2 linked regions of the Homo sapiens genome follow. The protein of the gene in region 1 interacts with the protein of each later gene in a pairwise test. Each region holds a gene or a part of one and is shown in the gene's direction. Other genes may lie near its edges.

Region 1 (3,747 bases):
CCCAATGAATACAGTTTTTGAATGCCACTTTTTTTTAATGTAGAGAAAATAAGACAGATTAGTATGGTAAAAGTATATATGCACTTTAGAATGAGGATTTAATTCTAATACTACTTCACTTCTTCCTGGTAGCATATTACTTACCTATGCCTCAGTCTCCTTAGCTGTAAAATAGGGATAAAAATAATCTCAGAGATATTTGTAAGAATTAAATGAGATATCAGTTATAAAAAACATCTAGCACAGTGTCTGGCACTTATCATGCACTTAGTAACTTTAGTTCTTTTCTGCCACTCTTAGCATATTTATTCAAGCCTTTAGAATAGTGGTTGGCATTGCTGACAGTGATGTCAGCTATGTTGATACAATGAACTCTCTATTTTTACTAACATGAATTGGGTTGTAATGATATTGCATTTTTTATAATTCTATATTTTTGTATGTAAGGTTCTTCACTAAAATATTTTAAATATAGGCATAATTATTGCAATCCTTTGAAACATGCTTTACACTTAGGGAGCTTCTAAATTCCTTTCTACAAATGGCTGTGCCCATTTTATTTTTGTTTTTAAACAAACATTTGGACTATGGGCAAAGAACTTTGCAAAGTGTTGTGGGGGAAGTAGAAAAACAGACACTTATGTAACACAAGGCTATAAAAAAAGAGGAAACGGAGGGAATACTGAAGAGCTTCTTCAGTATTTCCAACTACCTAGGTTCTAGGTACCTAATTAAATAGTCATGTTATGTGTCATTTAAATCCTTTATTCATTGCATTACAATTTATTCACCATTACTTTATCTGGGTCATCTACCCTTAGTCCCATTATAATTGCCAATGCATTAAGGGTGACATTTGCCCATTTGCTATATGTAATTCACAGGATGTGGTGTTTTTCAGTACCAGATGTTTTGAGGGGAGCCACTTGCAATGGACTGTTTTTTGGTGTATGTGTTTTAATAGTTTGCCAGAACTGAGTTTGATTTGAAACAACGTTCTTGATTTTCAAATACAGCATTTTCAAACAAATAGTGTGATGTACAAATTACCATCACTTTAGTTCACGTTGAAATAATCCACACTCTAAATCTGTTTGACATTTACCCCTTAAGTATTTTGGATCAATAAATCATTTCTGTATCATCTAGCATCTTAAAATGTTCGTAAGTAACTACTTAATACCCTACATATCCAGGTCCTGTCCCATTAGTTTGAGGGAAAAAATATATTATAGTAATTAAGACATAATTATGTTGTCTTGAAAAGCTAAGGGTCATTTGGACTTGATTACCCAAGGAGTTATCAGTGCCAAGGAAAATTAGGCAACTACAGGCTTGGGCCTGTAATTAAACATCTAGGACTGACATTTTGTTCATCAGAGGTGGCACCTTCTGAATGAATTACACCATTTCATTTTAGACAAGCTACGGTACATACAAAACAAGTGTGTGGAGGGGGTTGGGGGGTGGACATGAATAGAGATTGGAGGTGGAGAGAAAGACCGGTGTAAACTTAAGCATTTTGTTGTGAAAAACTACTGTTCAGCCAGCCTGCCTGGGCTCCATATATGGTGTTCAAATATAAGTTTGGGACGAGCACCTTTGCAATTTTGGCCAAGAACACACACACACTCACCCTCCTCTGCTAGAGAGGGCCCGCTCACCTGGAACGCAGGCGGCTGGTTCTCCGTATTACAGTGAGTGCTCGTTCTGTATGTATAGGATGGCCAAGTAACTAACTGGCAGCCCTGCTCCTGCCTCACTCTCCCACAACTTTTTATCCCCTCACCACCAACGCTCTCAACAACCCCTGACACGTCTTCCCACAGGTCCCTGGCTCGCTGTCCGGTCTCTTCGTGTTGGTTTGTCCGTTTCCCACTCCTTCAGCGGTCTCAGGTGGAACACGCCAGGTGGGCGCTTGGCTGTGTTCTGGGGTCCCGAGTTGGAAAGGGATGCCCCCAGGCAGAAGGCGGCCGGCAGCCCTGGGGCAGAGGAGGACGAGGGGGAGGAGAGGAGCAGGAGGGCAGGGCAGAGAAGGAGGAGGAGGAGGACGGTGCAGAGGAGGAGGAGGAGGAGGAAGAGGACAGGGCAGAGGAGGAGGGAGTTGGCGGCCGCCGAGCCCCGGGCAGCGGGCCCCGTCCGCGGCCGGCGCGCTCCGTGGTCCTCCCTCGCTCGTCTCCTATGCTCATATTTGGACTCGGCTGCCCGTGCCCAGGAATTTCCCGTCATGCCTCCCGCCGCCCCGTCCGTCGCCCGGAGCCGGGGAGGGAGGGAGCGAGGTTCGGACACCGGCGGCGGCTGCCTGGCCTTTCCATGAGCCCGCGGCGGACCCTCCCGCGCCCCCTCTCGCTCTGCCTCTCCCTCTGCCTCTGCCTCTGCCTGGCCGCGGCTCTGGGAAGTGCGCAGTCCGGTAAGTTCGGGCTCCCCTCCCCTCTCCTCCTCGCCTCACCCCTCCCACCCCGACCCTGCCACGTTAGGGTGTGACCCCGAGCCGGGATTCCATTCTGCGCCTGCTGCGCCCCCTCGGCCACCTGCGGGGACAGCCCCTGCCTCAGCCGAGAAGGGGAGCAGAAGGGTTGCGCCCCGCGCCAGCGGTGAGGGGCCGAACGGAAGGAGGTCAGGGCTGGTTTCCCCCCACCCGCCGAAGGGAGGCGTCTGGCAGCCTCACTGACACCTTATCCTGTCCCGGGAGCGAACCTGAACCCGCGGGAGCCTCTCGCCCCGCGCGGGCCCAGGAGAGAGGGATCTGGCGGGGCAGCCCGCGGGAGGCAGGGGAGGGGTCCATCCCGGAGCCCTCTGCTCTGTGCGTCGACCCTGCCGGGGTTGCCGCTCAGATAACGGGCCCGAGGCGTGGGAACCGGCCCGCCAGGCCTGCGCTTTTCGCCGCGCGCCTCGGAGAGGACGGGGGTGCGGGGCGGCGGGCAGGCGGCAGGGAGGGGCGCACCCGGGAGCGCACCCGCCGCCCGCCCTCCCTGCGCTGCTGCCCCGCTGCTGGGCCAGACTCCAGCGGGCCCGCCTGGCATTTCACAGGCCAAAATCGAACAGAACCCCGAGTTTGCCAGGTATCAGTTTTGCTTTGTTTTTAAGCAGAAAAAGGCATCCAAGTCTATTTTTGAAGTTTTACACTGGGCTATTTCGAGTCAAACTATATGAATGAAAAGTGCTGTTCCTGCCTTATTTGGTTTAGGGCTAATAGCTATCGGAAGTGGCAGTTATGAAGTCGTTACAGTAAGACTTTATAAGATAATCTTCTTGAATCATGTGGGAACTGTTGGGGGGAATTTAATATCAGATTATTATTTTAAAAAGCAGTTATTTTAAAGTACAAAGGTAGGGATAAAGGTAAATGTGAAATTGCATGGACTTTTACGTTTGTGATGAGTAGTCGTCAAAGCTTCTTGCTTCTTAATTTTATCGGGAATGGAAGAATATAAATTATAATTCCTTAGAGCTGAGATTTCTTAGGAGATTTTAGTTTGCTTTTGTTTTTTCTACCAATAGACTAAATTGTCAAATAAGATATGGCAAACTAGGACTCATAAATTAGTTGAAACATGACTCTATGAAGCATAGATTATATTCAGTACTCTCTGGTTTATCTCTTCATATTTTCATTTGCAGCGCTGGTGGCAAGATCGATTTTCAAAAACAATTTTGTCTATAAAAAAACTTCAGGGTTCATATAACTTATAAAATTGTCAGTTCAGATTAATGGCAGATATTTACAATATTTAACTTTATTCAATT
Region 2 (3,747 bases), 7.5 Mb from region 1:
AGAATCTCTGAGAAAAGACAGTTCAGGATCACTGGCCACAACGGCTAATCTCTGATGCTTGTGCTGACCAGCTCACTGACCCGGAACCTGGCAGATGAAATGGCTCATGTAGGGATTGACGCCAGAAAGGACAACCCAGGTTTTAAGAAGCATTTGAGGCAGCCCCCTCCACTCTCCAGGGCAAAGGTCACAGACCCAGAGTAGAGGGTAGGTGGAGCCTCTCCATGCTGATGTCACCAGTGTCTGGACGAAAGGGGAAAGGCCAATTATGACCCCCCACAAAAGTTGCTGAGGCAGCAGAAGCTACTAGGCCTCTTCTCACCCCAAAAAGAGGGCCTGAGTGTTACCTAACAGGCCACCATAGCCACAGCCTATGTCTGCAAACTCCACTTGGGCCTGAGCTCTCTTTTCTTTCTTATCCTTTGGGTCATCGTGGCTCTGATTTTGAGTGAGTGGAGCGAAGAACTCTGGGTATAGCTCAGACCAGTCCATCTCCTCTGGCTTCACAGGGCTATTGGAAAGAAGACATAAGAAGCATGAGAAGGTTGGTCACACCATTGCAGAAGTGGTACTGTGAGAGTGTGTGGGTGGGTGAGGGTGGGAGGTAAAAGGGAGGAGGGTTTCTCAAAAATTCTGTAACACTGGGCCCTGTGGCCTCTAAGAGGGACAATGGAAACCACCCTTAACTCCCAGTGTGAATCATAGGACCATCATGAGGCCCATAAACGCTGACCTGCCCAACTCCACTTCTGGCGGTTGATGTGACCCTGGCCGGGTAACTGCCCTTTCTGGGGCACAAGTTCCCCTTCTCCCGAGACTGGCTGCCTAATGCACTGGGATCCTACTTTGTGTTTGTGCTCTGCGGGGAGGGAAGGTAAGGTAAGGTGCGGGCAGGATTGTGTATATGTTTGCCTTTTTATTAAATCCAACAAACAAAAGCAAAAGATGGAAACGACATTCTGCCTCTATCACTTCAGTCTCAGTAACAATTTATTTCTCTTCCCAAACTTAGCACCGCTACCCAGACTTAGGCCCGAACGCCACGCCCACTCTCAACCCGCCAACTCCTCTCTCGGTCGAATCTCCCGGTCCCACCCCCAAAAACTGACGTCACCCATCTGATCCTCCCGGGTCTACCCCAAATCCTCCCAGCAGTTGCAGCACAACTGCTCTCCCGGCTGCTTTGAGAATCCCGCCCTCCTCTCTCTCCCTCTGCCCACTCCTCACTAGCGCAGCGTGTGGTCCGCCATGGGGTTGGAGTGAGCACGTTGCCGGTAGTAGCGCTTCTGGGGCGGTGGGGCCTCTGCTCCGGCCACGTTCCGAGTCTCGGCTGCCATGATCCCAGTCCGGGGTTTCTCTACCAAATCCACGTGGAGGCGCAGGCCAGAGGCGCAAGTTAATGACGCAGCCATGCGCGTTGGTGGCAGTTCCCGCCCCTTAAAGACCCAAGAGCAAATTCAGCTGGGCTGGGCTGGGCTGGGCTGGGCTAGGTGGGGAGGGCTGTAAGGAGCGAGTGCTGGAGGGAACCTCCGCACCGTTAGCCTCCAACTGGGAGGGCGAGGCCAGGCCCAGGGACCCAACGTTTTCTCTTAGCTTGCTTCTGCCTGGTCTGGGTTACCATCCTGGTTGCAGGCACCTGTGCACCCCACAGGTGAGAGGGGTCTAGAGACCTCGCCTTCTACAGTGGCATCAGTCCTCGCTCCTGTCCCCTTACTCCTGGTCTCGGACCAGTCCGCCCGGTCTGACTCTTGTGGTCCCGTGTGGGTTTCGTCGAGTGTGCGCTCGGGGCCGGGGCGGGAGGGGCAGCTCCTCATTCCACCTCCAGGAAATCGAACTGGAGGAAGGAGGGCAAACTCAGGGAGGCGGGGCTCGTTCCACAGGGACACCACGACGGCTCGCGGCCCCCAGCCTCTACCCCGCTCCGGATCCGGGATCTGAGCGCCGGCCGCGGTGCCCAGGCACTCCCTTGGCGGGCCGGATGGCGGACCCCGGCCCAGATCCCGAATCTGAGTCGGAATCGGTGTTCCCGCGGGAGGTCGGGCTCTTTGCAGACTCTTACTCGGAGAAGAGCCAGTTCTGTTTCTGTGGGCATGTGCTGACCATCACGCAGAACTTTGGGTCCCGCCTCGGGGTGGCGGCGCGCGTGTGGGACGCGGTGAGGAATGGGCTGCGCCGGGTGAGGGTCCGTGGGAGGTCCAGATCCCGGACTCCGCCTCTCCCATATGGAGCCATCCTCACGACTGTCTTTTTCTCTGTCTTTTCTCCCGTAGGCCCTGAGCCTGTGCAATTATTTCGAGAGTCAAAATGTGGATTTCCGAGGCAAGAAGGTGATCGAACTGGGTGCGGGGACAGGCATCGTGGGGATCTTGGCAGCGCTGCAGGGTGCGTGAGCTGGCTTTTTACGGGAGAGAGTGGGGACCCAGGGGCGCGGAGAAATGGTCACTTCGTGGATCTTTGGGGGAGAGGGGAGAACTTTGGGCCCAGTCTAACCCCTTCTTTTTAACAAATTTTTTTTTAAAATTTGTTTTTGTTTTTATTTTGGCGTCTGCTTCTGCGTGCCAGACAGCGCGAATTGCCTGTCAAAGCACCTAGGGTGGGTGATTGGGGAGGGCAGGAAATAAAACTCAGGCAGGCCTATAAGAAGGAGTTGTTTCTATCGTGTTGCTTTTTTTTTGTTTTTAATTTTTTTTGTTTTTTTGAGACGGAGTCTCACTGTGTCGCCCAGGCTGGAGTGCAGTGGCTGCTATCCCCACTAACTGCAACCGCTGCCTCCCGGGTTCAAGCAATTCTCATGCCTCAGCCTCCGAAGTAGCTGGAATTACAGGCTTGCGCTACCATACCCGGCTACTTTTTGTATTTTTAGTAGAAGACGTTTCACCATGTTGGCCAGGCTGGTCTCGAACTCCTGACCTCAGGTGATCCATCTGCCTCGCGAGGCGCCTGGGATTACAGGCGTGAGCCACGACACCCAGCCTTGTGTTACTCTTTGTGATTTTATGGAGAATACTGTCACTTAAAAGCGCCTTGGCTTTGGACATGGTCTTCTGTCAAGATGCACATATGGGGGTACTCTGTAGGGAGACTTGCAGACATTAAACTTCGTGAGTGCTTTATAACTTTATTATGAATATATTTCAGATTCCTTAGGTTTTTATTGCTAAGAGAAACAAGCTTATGAGTTTCCAAGGGTTAGGATGTGTTTTGTAGGAAGCGGGGTAGGAATTAGACACTGCAGACTTGGAAAAGGAAAAGGTAAGGAAAAATTTGCTTCTCTTTTGTCAAGAAGCAAAAACTACAGAGGAAACAGTTTCACAAATTATAATCTAATGGGCAGAAAAAACCTCAAACTGAAAGCACTCGTTTAAAAATTCTTACAATGTCATCTCCCTAGGAATGTAAATTAACATGTCTTTGTTCATAGGGACAGAACTAGGTCATATTAAGGGAAGCCTAGCCGGGCGCAGTGGCTCACACCTGTAATCCCAGCCCTTTGGGAGGCCAAGGTGGGTGGATCACCTGAGGTCAGGAGTTTGAGACCAGCCTGACCAACATGGTGAAACCCCATCTCTACTAAAAATACAAAATTAGCCGAGCATGATGGCTTATGCCTGTAATCTCAGCTACTTGGGAGGCTGAGACAGGAGAATCGCTTGAACCCGGGAGGTGAAGGTTGCAGTGAACTGAGATCGCACCATTGCACTCCAGCCTGGGCAACAAGAGTGAAACTCTGTCTCAAAAATAAAAAAA

What was found. The genes of interacting proteins can lie anywhere in the genome.
Region 2: the proteins of MSRB3 (region 1) and EEF1AKMT3 interact in binary tests that used the Homo sapiens proteins (3 or more experiments, as listed by UniProt).

Annotation. Positions count from the first base shown.
Region 1 is NC_000012.12:65,276,456-65,280,202, forward strand, and holds the start of MSRB3 (methionine-R-sulfoxide reductase B3 isoform 2 precursor), read left to right. Parts: upstream 1-2,227; 5' UTR 2,228-2,313; coding exon of another isoform or gene 2,314-2,410; intron 2,411-2,501; exon of another isoform or gene 2,502-3,062; intron 3,063-3,747. UniProt on the Homo sapiens protein: Catalyzes the reduction of free and protein-bound methionine sulfoxide to methionine. Isoform 2 is essential for hearing.
Region 2 is NC_000012.12:57,770,747-57,774,493, forward strand, and holds the start of EEF1AKMT3 (EEF1A lysine methyltransferase 3), read left to right. Parts: upstream 1-1,867; 5' UTR 1,868-1,978; coding exon 1,979-2,155; intron 2,156-2,270; coding exon 2,271-2,382; intron 2,383-3,747. Other genes in the region: METTL1 (tRNA (guanine-N(7)-)-methyltransferase), read right to left, coding at 348-511, 1,228-1,337. UniProt on the Homo sapiens protein: Protein-lysine methyltransferase that selectively mono-, di- and trimethylates 'Lys-165' of the translation elongation factors EEF1A1 and EEF1A2 in an aminoacyl-tRNA and GTP-dependent manner.